Linked DNA regions of Homo sapiens: region 2 is linked to region 1. Evidence: fine-mapped expression QTL. A gene starts in region 1. The other region holds a variant in brackets. All regions are shown on one strand. Distances are from middle to middle.

The links. PIP is the estimated chance that this variant, and not a neighbour inherited with it, causes the effect.
Region 2: its variant is fine-mapped to the expression of VSTM2B-DT in cerebral cortex (GTEx, PIP 0.95).

Annotation. Positions count from the first base shown.
Region 1 is chr19:29,522,574-29,527,933 of GRCh38, forward strand. VSTM2B-DT (VSTM2B divergent transcript) reads right to left here and starts at 3,177. Exons shown (of 10, transcript NR_040029.2): 1 at 2,851-3,177. VSTM2B (V-set and transmembrane domain containing 2B) reads left to right here and starts at 3,421. Exons shown (of 5, transcript NM_001146339.2): 1 at 3,421-4,092; 2 at 4,638-4,822. The coding sequence starts at 4,011. All of the region lies in intron 1 of LOC124904683 (a long non-coding RNA gene), which reads right to left.
Region 2 is chr19:29,413,598-29,418,957 of GRCh38, forward strand. All of the region lies in intron 2 of VSTM2B-DT (VSTM2B divergent transcript), which reads right to left. Among named protein-coding and RNA genes, the nearest start is that of VSTM2B-DT, 110 kb to the right of the region's middle. RefSeq lists a silencer at 1,965-2,259 and an enhancer at 3,570-4,303. The variant G/A (reference allele first, on the strand shown) is at 2,211.

The DNA.
Region 1 (5,360 bases):
TGGTGGCGCATGCCTGTAGTCTCAGCTACTTAGAAGGCTGAGACACGAAGATGGCTTGAGCCCAGGGGTTCAAGACCAACCTGGGCAACAGAGCAAGAACTCACCTCTACAAAAATTTTAAGCACAAAATTAGCCAAGTGTGATGGTGCATGCCTGTAGTCCTAGCTACTTGGAAGGCTGAGGCAGAAGGATCGCTTGAGCCCAGGGGTTCAAGACCAGCCTAGGCAACATAGCAACACCCCATCTCTACAAAAAAAATATATATATATTAGCAAGGCATGGTGGGCTAATCCTCCTGGTGTCAGCATGATAACTCTGGAGGCTGAGGTGCTTGAGCTCAGGACGTTGAGGTGCAGTGAGCTAAGATCGTGCCACTGCACTCCAGCCTGGACAACAGAAAAAGACCGTGTCAAAAAAAAAAAAAAAAAAAACCATAGTGAAGGTGGGTCAGCTGCTCTCATCACAGTCTACAAGGCAGGGCAGAAAACAGATAGACCAAGCTGAACAGACAGGAAAGAGACTACAAGTCTAGCTCAGGCTGCTCCTTGCTCCCATCAGTCAAGGGTAGGGCCTTGCTCTCCACACCAACTCGAGGCATCAGGACCAGGGGCTCACCTGGAGGAGGGAAGAGCTTAGTGTTTTGGTTAAGATCCAGGACCCCAGAGTAAGACAGGCTTTGGGTTGATGCGTCACTCAGCCACTTACTAACTATGTGACCTTGGGCAAGTTCCGTAAGCTTCTGAGCTTCAACCATAAAATGGAGTGAAATCACCATGTCTACCCCTGGAGTTGTGATTGAGGTAAAATGAGCTCATTCATTCATTCCACAAGTATTTACTGAGCTCCTACTCTGTGCCCGACCCTGTTGTAGGCGCTAGAGATACATCAGTGAACAAGGCAGGCACAGTCTTAGAGACCTGCAACAAGACACTCAATAAATAAGGATGTGGTCCCATGTGTTGGAAGATGGCTGGCGAAATGGAAAAAATAAAGGAAGCAGAGTGAGGGCCTGGGAGTGCTGGGTGGTGGGAGGAGAGGCAGTGTAGACTGCAGTGTTAAATATGGTGGCCCAGGTGGGCCTCATGGAGAAGGTGACTGCTTGACAAAAACCAGAGCACAACGGAGTTAGCCAAGCAAGTATCTGTGGGAGAAGCATGTCAACCAGATGGTGCGGCTGGTGCAAGGGCCCTGGGGTAGAAGCATGCCCAGTGTGCTGCATTGTAGGAAGGAGAACAGTGTGGCTAGGGGAGTGTGAGCTATGGAGAAGACAGAAAAGATGAGAAGATGAAGGAAAAGGGTGAGCAGGAAGCAGAAAGGCAGATGGTTTGACCTTGGCAGCCACTGCAAGGCCACTGGTGTTTATGCCAAGTGAAATGGGAGCCACTGTGGGGTTTTTCAGCAGTGGAAGAGGGATCTGATTTCCCTGAGAAGGATCTCTTTGTCATGTTGAGAACTGATGCCTAGAAAGTGTCTAGTACATGGAAAGCATGTGAAAACATGTATCTGTCGCTCTTAGAGTAATACCAACTCATGCAGTGGGCAAGAAACACCCAACCCCACAAGGCGGTACAGGGATAAATTACTTCCAGATAATTCCCTCTAGCTACAGGGATTCTCCCACGGGCATCGCTGGTCTCCAGCATTAGCCTCTGCTTGGATCTGGCATCAGGAAAGGAGACTGCTACCTCTCCAGGTGGGCCACTGCGCAGTGGGCTAGCTCTTTCTTCAGAACCCTGCTTGGAATCAGTCCCCAAATGAGCCTGCTTTCCTGGAACCCCGCTGTGGTCCTGAATCTGCATAGAGCGGTGCAAGTCTGCCCTCTCCCTTCAGAAGCTGAGGACAGCAATGGGGCCTGGCAGGGTCTTACATTCGGGGGTCCAAAGTGGTTTCTAAGGGCACATGGGATTTCCTAGGAAAAGCTCCTGCCATGACAGAAGGAGCTGGCAACTGCCTCTGTGGAGCCCCTAGAGAGGAACTTGAGGGAAAGGAGGAAAGTCCTATAGGACCCCCTTCTTCCCTTTGCCCCCAGCAGGAGACCTTAGAAAACAAGGGCTTGATAGATGAGCCACAGTGAGCCAGGGGGTGGGAGTGACTCCTGGGCCATAGACGAGGAAACTGAAAGGCAGGCACTGGAGGCAAGAAGGGCTGGCCCCGGGCACCCGCTGGCGAGGACAGCCTTGGAGAGGGCCTGCAGCTCCTCCCCTCTGAGCTGTGCTGCGCTGGCCGCCTGGACCAGGGTGGCTGCTGGAGAGTGTTTTCCCTCTGGGTTTCCTTCTCCTTGGCTCCCAGGGAATCCTCTGGCGGTGCCTCCGGGAGGCTGGTAGCCGGGGAAGCAGGCACGTGAATCCACCGGGCTGCCCCACCCCAACCTGAGGTCAGAGCTGAGGCGTAGGGGCCGGGGTAGGGGCAGAGGTGCCGAAACGCACTAGCTGGGGACTCCCGGGGGAAGGAGATAGGAGAGACCCAAGGCGAGCCTTAGGACTCGCCCCTATGACTATGACTACGCGCTGCGTCCGAACCACATGTCCACCCCGCATTTGCCTTCGGGGACCAGACCGCGCTCCCTCAGATGGCTGGGGAGGGAGCAGACTCCGGGTGAAGGCTGGGGGAGGTACCGGGATGCCGAGTACGCCAGAGCAGGCGGGGGATGGGTTCCGGCTTCCTGCCGCCTCGGCATCTCGCTTTGCACCGGGCAAAGAAGGGGCCACGACCGGCGAAGAGCGCGTGGAGACACAGGGACCCGCGATCCAGGGGCAGGAACCCCGCCCCCTCCCGGAAACCTCCCGGGCCCTGAGTCGTGCCCGGCGCTCCCCACCCCACCCCACCCCCGCCGCCCCTGCCGTCACTCACGGCCGCTGCGGGCTGGCTAGCGTGTGCGCTCTCCGCGCCGCAGGCACCTGCTCGCTGGGCGCTGTGCGCTCACTTCTCCCTCGCGCACTGCAGACTCCCGGCGCTGCCGCCGCCACCCAGCGTAGTCTCCGGCTGGGCACAGCGTTCCGCCCTTCTCGCGGCCCCGGGCGCCCACCCATCCGTCATGGCCCAGGCCTGGGCCAAACAGCGGGGCAGCTGGTTGCCCAAACTGGGGTAAGGAGTTGAGGGCTGGGAGCTGCAGAGAGGACCGAGGGACACACGGGGAGCAGGGATGAGCGGCCGTCTCGAGCCGTGCAGACTGGGAAGAAGCCAGGGAGAGTTTGGGTGGGAGGACTCCCAACCCAAGCGGGTGCGGGGCGGGGCTGTACTCCAACCAGAAAGACGGTGGTCCCTCCGAGCGACCCCCGAGGAGAGAGGGGGAGCGCTCTGGGGCGGGGGCGGGGCGGGCTGTGGCAGGAGAGGGGAGGGCGGGGGCGATGCAGCGGTGGAGGCGGCTTGGCGCCCAGCCACTGACCGCCCCCTCCCTTCCCCTCCCCTCCCCCTCTCCCCGCCTCTCTCCGGCTCCGGGTCCGCCACGCCGGACCCGCTCTCCCCGCGCTGCGCTGGGTCGGACGCCAGGTCTGCGCGCCGCGGCTGAGCGCCCACTCGCCCTGCGGAAAGAGCCGCGGAGGAACCGGCGGGGGCGGCTGCGGGAGCCGAAGGAGGTGGCAATCGGGAGCAGAACCAGAAGGAGACAGGGAGGCAGAAGCTCGCGGCTCCGTGGCACGCACTCCCTCGGCCAGGGATGGGTCCCGGCGCGGCCCAGCCCCTGCCCGGCCCGCCGGGCAGAGACTGAACCGCGGATCCCCACCGTCCTGTGGACGACCGGACAGAGAGAGGCACTGACCGATCGCCAGCAGCCTCCCGGTGGGACCGCGTCTCCTGCACACCCCGCGCAGCGCCCCCCGCCGGAGCCGCACCGGGCAAGCCGGCGAGGGAGCGGGGCTGATTGGCGGCCGCCGGCGGCCAGGGGAGGGGGCGCCGCGCGGGGCCATGGCAGGCTCGGAGGCGTCCTAGCCCGAGCCGGAGCCGATCCGAGCCCACGCGGCCGCCGCCTCTCCGCTCCCGGGCCCCCGCCGCCACCGCGCCCCCCGCGGGAGATGGAACAGCGGAACCGGCTCGGTGCCCTCGGATACCTGCCGCCTCTGCTGCTGCATGCCCTGCTGCTCTTCGTGGCCGACGGTGAGCGCGGGAACTTTGCTGCCGCTGTGGACTCGGGGGGGTCTTTGCTGGGGCCGCCACCGAGAAGAAGAAGAAAGAGAACGAACCGGGAAGCTTCGCGGTCTCCAGCAATCCCGCTGTGCAGCCTGGGCCCGGAGGGGTAGGGAGAGGCGAGCGGCGAAGGGTCGCCGCAGCAGCAGCGCCGCGCCCGAGTCGTTCCCAGTCCCGCCGGGGCCCCGGCTGCGGAAAGGATGCCTGCGGGGAGCGGGAGTAGGCGCGCCCCAGCCAGGCTCTGGCGGTGCGGCCAGGGGCGGGGGAGAAGCACGAGTCGCCCCTGCCGCCCCGCCCCATCCGGAGGGAAGCAGTAGGCAGCCGATGGCCGGTCCCTGCCTCGGCCCTGCAGCCGCTTCCCCGAACTTTGCTAGCCCCTCCGGCCGTGCGCCAGGGAGCAGCTGCGGGGTGGGGGGCACAAGGCCAGCCAGCCAGAGACCGACTGCCTCGCTTTAGGTTGCCCCAGGCCCCCGACCTACAGCTGGTCACGCCTCTCTCTCTCTCCCCACCCCCAGCTGCATTCACAGAAGTCCCCAAAGATGTGACAGTACGGGAGGGAGACGACATCGAAATGCCCTGCGCGTTCCGGGCCAGCGGAGCCACCTCGTATTCGCTGGAGATTCAGTGGTGGTACCTCAAGGAGCCACCCCGGGAGCTGCTGCACGAGCTGGCGCTCAGCGTGCCGGGCGCCCGGAGCAAGGTAACCCGCCGCCCACGCGGTACCGGCGCGCGCCCGGCTCGCGCCCGGGGCGGCGAAGGCTAACCCAGGGAGGGAAGCAGCGGGCTTCACTCGCGCAGGGCGCCGCCCTGTGGCGCAGCCCATCTTCCACCTTCGCATCCCAAAGCATCTTCAAAGTCAGCAGTGGTTACCCCCAAACCTGTCAATTATTTTGACAGCATCGCTGTTCCCACCACCTCCCAGAACTCCATTCACGCCCAGCCCCTAAAGAGCCACACCTCAGCCTGGTCGCTTGCTCGTGCTCGCTGGCTGCGGCCCTCTGATGGGTGCTGGGTAGTGAAGGAAGCCCCCTTGGTCCCATCAGGCTCTCCCCGCCCTCTGCCACTTTGAGGACCCCAGGGCTCCCACGGCTGCGTTCCAGAGGCCACCAGAAAACCGAGTACCGGAAAGCCGGCAGGACCTCCAGCCCTCAGGGGCACAGAGGGGCCACTTCTCTGTGGCCGAAAACAGGCCCACGCTGCCTGTCTGCCTCAAAACCCACACTCTCTTACACACTCTA
Region 2 (5,360 bases), 110 kb before region 1:
CATAGACCATGGCAACAGCTCCACCACTAAGGGCCAAGTCACCAGATTGTCTGAGAGTCCCTCTGCTTGCACCACTAGTTTCCCTGATGAAAGGCAGAAACGCCAGCCATCTCTGACCGAGGCCATCTCTGCATAGGGAGCTTCTGGCCCTCAGCTGTGGGGCTGGCACTGCAGAGAGGGCATCCCCACCCCTGCACGTGCCCACACAGGTGAAAGAAAGCCTGAGCAGCTGCCCCCAGCACAGGCTGGAAACCCTGGAGCTAGTCAGGAAGGCAGCCCCAGCAGAACTCTCCCCGGCCCCCAGTGGATGCCTCCAGGGAAACCCTCCCACCAGCCCCACACAGCCTCACAGAGGCACAGATCCTGGATTGTTTTAGCTCCATGCAGCCCAGCAGGGTTCTATCTAACACTTCCCTGAGTAATCATAACCTGCCAAGGTGATGGGGCATGTGCCCATCGGGGTGGCCGTGGCAGGCAGCGTGGTGAGCTCTGTGATGCAGAGTCAGGGATCTGAGCTCCACCTGCCCCTAGTCCTGGGCAGACCCCTGGACCAGCCTCCAAGTTCATCTGAGGCCTGAGTGCTGCAGAGGATGGTCCCAGGGGAGAGAGCCTCAGCAAGAAAGAAGGAGTCTGGCCGGGCACAGTGGCTCATGCCTATAATCCTGGCACTTTGGGAGGCCAAAGCAGGTGAATCACTTGAGGCCAGGAGTTCGAGACCAGCCTGGCCAACATGGTGAAACCCAGTCTCTACAAAAAACAGAAAAATTCACCAGGCATGGTAGCACATGCTTATAATCTCAGCTACTCAGGAGGCTGAGGCATGAGAGTCTCTTGAACCTGGGAGGTGGAGGTTGCAGTGAGCCGAGATGGCGCCGCTACACTCCAGCCTGGAAAAAAAGAAAGGAAAAAAGAAGGAGTTGTCTTCTCCTCCCACCCATCTCTGCTTCTAAAACTGCCCATAGCTTGTCTCATTTGAAAACACTTCCTGGAGAATCATCCCTCAATTTTCATTAATTATGAATGTAACTTTCCTCTTACTAAATTCAACTTTCTTTTTTCCAGTTGCTGTAAAGTCTCATTCCTCAGAGCCATCCAGGGTGCTCTCCTGGGCACAGTCACCTCTGTCTGGAATGCCTTTCCCTACTTTTCTATCCTGCAAACTCCTGCAAATCCTTCAAGACCTACCCCTTTTCCATGAAGTCTTCCATGATTTCCCTGAACAGTGTTAATGGCACCATCTTCTGGGCTTTCTGAAACCCAGGCTGTGTATTAATATCTCCATGGGTTCTGACCACAGATCAGCAAACTGTGGCTCAAAGGCCAAATCCAACTCACCTCTCATTTGGCAAATAAAGTTTAATTGAAACAGAGCCAAGCCTATTCATTTACTTATTGACTATGGCTACCATCAGACTACAATACTGATAGAGACGATATGGCCCAAAAAGCCAAAAATATGTGCTATCTAGTCCTTTACATAAGTATTTTTGTGCACTGAGCCCTGCCCGAGACTGTGCTCCTCTCTGGGGCTAGGACAAGCAAGAGGGCCGCTTGCCCTCTGGAAGAAAGCTTGCTGAATTAATGATTGGATGAATGAGTGAGTGATGGAGAAGCCCATGTTTTCAATTCAATGCACAATTCACTGGGCCAGTGTTTCCAGAGGGCCCCGCGGAACTCTGCATGGACCACCGCATGCATCAGGGTTTCAGTGTATACTGTCCGCCCTCCACGCCCATGCATTCTGCATCTGCAGATTCAAAAATATCAAAAATCTTTGGGAAAAATCAATAAAAGCAATACAAAAATTAAAAATAATACAATTTTTAAAATACCACGTAATACTTTGAACGTAGCATTTGCATTGTATTAGGTATCATAAGTAATCTAGAGATGATTTAAAGCACTTGACAAGATGTGTGTAGGCTATGTGCAAATGCAAGCCATTTTACATCACAGATTTGAGCATCCTTGGATTTGGGGAACCAAAGCAGGTCCTGGAACCTATGTCCTGTGGATGCCCAGGGATGACCAAAAGAAGGTGTTACAGGCTTCAAGGCGTATGGGCAACCTGATATGCTGGACAGCGCCCTGCACCACATCTCAGCTCATCCTTTTGCTCCAGCAGTTGCAGGAGAAACCAGAAGGAGGTGCTGGCAGTGCCTCTGTGGCAATCCACGTGGCTTTCTCTGCTTTTGCCTCTGGGATACCCC[G/A]GATACCCAGGAAGCCACTCAGCCATCTGGTGCATATCCACCCTAGGAAGTGCAGGGGAGTTAAAATCCACAGCGACTCCAGTGGGCAATTCTGATGCATGTTCTACACGCTGCCCCAGAGGGTCTCCAGTCACCCACCATGGTCTCCCTCCACCCCTCTTCACCTTTCCTGAGGGTGCACTCCTGCTTCCCGGGAACATATCCCCCAAATTAACTATCTACACACAAGCCATTGTCTCAGGCTCTGCTTCGGCTCGGGGTATGGGATATCAGTCTCCAGCACCTGGGTTTAACCTGGTCTAAACCTTACGGCGGGACTTGTCAGCATCTTCTGTATCTTTAATACTCTGTCAATCTCCAGCAAGGACATCTGGTAAATCTGTTTCCTGGGGCTGCAGCAACAAAGTGCCACACGCCAGGTGGCTTACAACAGCAATTCATCCTCTCGCAGTTCTGGAGCCAAGAAGTCCAAGATCAAGGCGTCCACAGGTCCACGCTCCCTCTGAAAGCTCTAAGGGAGGGAGGCCCTCTCTGACACTTGTCAATCTCCCTCTCATTCCTCTTCTGACACCACTAATTGGATTTGTGCCCCCCCAATCCAGAATGATCTCATCTGCAGATCATTTATTTAATTACATTTGCAAAAACCTTATTTCCAAGAAAGGTCCTATTTATAAGTACCAGGAGTTGGGACTTCGAAATTCTTCTGGAGGAACACTAGTCTGCACAGGACGTTCAGTGAGTGGCATTTCTTACACTTCTTTGATGGTAAAACTTTTTTATCCACCAGAGTACCTCTCAGGACTGGTGCTCTTCAGGAAAATGTGTGTTCACCAGTATTCCCCAAGAGGACGAAGGCCACCTCTGTCCTGTCCAATGCTGCAGCCCAGGACCTGGCGTGGTACCTGTCATAGACACTGTGCCAGCAAGCAGGCTGGGAGCAAGCTGCCCAGACAGGGAGAAGCTGGGAGAGAAATCTCAGCACAGGAGCAAGAGGGACACCCAGGAGGCTCATCCATGGTCCCTTGAGAGCTCCTGGGCTGCCTATCTGGAGCTCCAGAGAGCGGGCTGGACTGAGAGCTGAGCCAGCCCCGGGCTGGCCTCCCCGCTTCCCTGCGGGCAGAGCCTCCTCCAGCCACAGCCTGGCTGCTGGCACCAGTGCCTTCCTGCCTCGGGGAATGCCTGGTTAGCCCTGACTGGGAATTCAATGGGGGCCTGCACCAAGCCCTCCACTCCATTAAGCTCCCCACTCCACCAAGCCCTCTACTCAACCAAGCCCTCCACTCCACTTCCTGAACACTCAGAGAGTCTGATGGGGACAAACCAGGTGCTCTGAGGCACCCTTGGCAGACAGGCATGAAGGATTAGAAACCTCTCCTAAGGTACACTCACACCTAGCCAGACACACCTCTCTGTGGGGCCAGACTGTTCTTGAAGCAGCCCTCTAGGGGCGCTTGCAGAGGGAGTGGGGCACTGTCCACACCTCTCCCAACCCGAGGAGCTCCCAATCCTTGCCTTCTGGGTAGGTATCAGCACAACTTCAACCTGTGGGAGGCCCCAGTTCTCCATTAACGCACTAGGACCACCTTCCAAAGGCCAGAAGCCAGTGCCGCTGGCACTTGGCTTGTGTTTCTCTTGAGGTTTGGAATGAAGCTGTCCATGAACTTTTAAAATGGCTGCTGGGCAGTGAGCCCCCAGGCTGCAGGTGCTGGGCCTTCTAGAGCTCCGAAACCTCCGCGTCAGGGGCCAACCCCTTCAGCAAGTTGCTTCTGCAGCAGTGAGTAACACACCTGCACACGGACCAGCTTCCTCCCAGGGCCCTTCCTATGGAGGCCACTCCAGAATCCCTTCTCCTCGTCTGACCCTCTGGACCCTGGACTTCCACTGCAGCCTCCCCCAATTTCTGTGGCCTCCAAAAAGCAAACCCTCCAAAGAGAGGTGCCCCCACTCTAACAATACACTGAGTTGGACAAGGCAGTGCTGGTGAGCCCAAGACCCTCCCCAGGGGGTGCGGTCCCTGCAGGGTCTCATTAGGTGTTAGTGGTGTCCCCGGGGAGGGTCTCACCCTCCCCTCGCCTCCTCCAGCCGCTGACCAGCACAGGGCCCCACATACAGGAGCTTAGAGCGGGTTTGCTGACTCATTGGAAGGCAACCAGCAGGTAGGGTTTCCAGGCTCTGCCTCAGGAGGCAGCCTGAGATGGACCTACCAGTCATCTTCATGGGCAGAGCAGAAGTGCAGAGGAAGCAGGCATTTGTATTTGATCAGGTTTTTATTCCTGGCTCAGCCTGCAAACAGTAAACATTTCATTGCTTGTCTCACAATTACATTAAAAGGTAGATAAACCCCTTCTAGCTTACATTTGGCATTTCAGCCTCTAATCCAACAAATCGCCCTTTATCCCCTCTTTCATACGCACGTGCGCACACAGTCGGGGCTCTGTGACCGGCAGGGAGCTCCCGCCTCCCATCTTCAGCAGAGCAGCCCGGCTCCCGGCTTCAGGGCCACACACAGCAGGGCCCCAGCTCTGGCCAGGCTCTTACTTGCAGGACTTCTCAGGACCTTCGTATCCTATAGCAGCTTTTCCTAAATGCCCTGGATTGTAAAAGGCCCAGCCCACATGAGTCAGTAAAGGAGGAGACAAGTAGGGCCCCATCTGCTGCAGCCAGGACCGGTGGCGCCCATTGTGTCATGTCTGTCCCACCCTCGTGAGCAGCAGAGCCAGAGCTGAGCACAGCCTGGGGTCGTGTCACCAGGTCCAGGTGCTCCCCAGGGAGGTCTGGGGCTGGGGAAAGCCCTGAGCCACTGTGGAGGGGAGGGGCCCGGGCTGGAAGCAGAACATCTTCTTTCTGAACCCGCTGGGGCCTGCAGCACTGTGTGAGCTCAACCCAGCTCTCAACTGCCTCTGGGCCTTCTCTCGCATCTCCAGGTACACAAGCACAGCATGGATCACATCTGGGGCCGCATCCAGCCACTTGATTCCTTGGGAAGCAACCCCACAGTCCTTCAAGCACACTCCCTGTTCCCAGGAGAAGCTGCACATGGTGAGGCCACCATAGCCTGCTGGTGGCAGCCTGTTGGCCCTGACCCATACCAGGCTGCCCGTGCCAGGCAGCCCATGCCAGCTCAGGGCTCCCTTCTCCCTGCCCTAC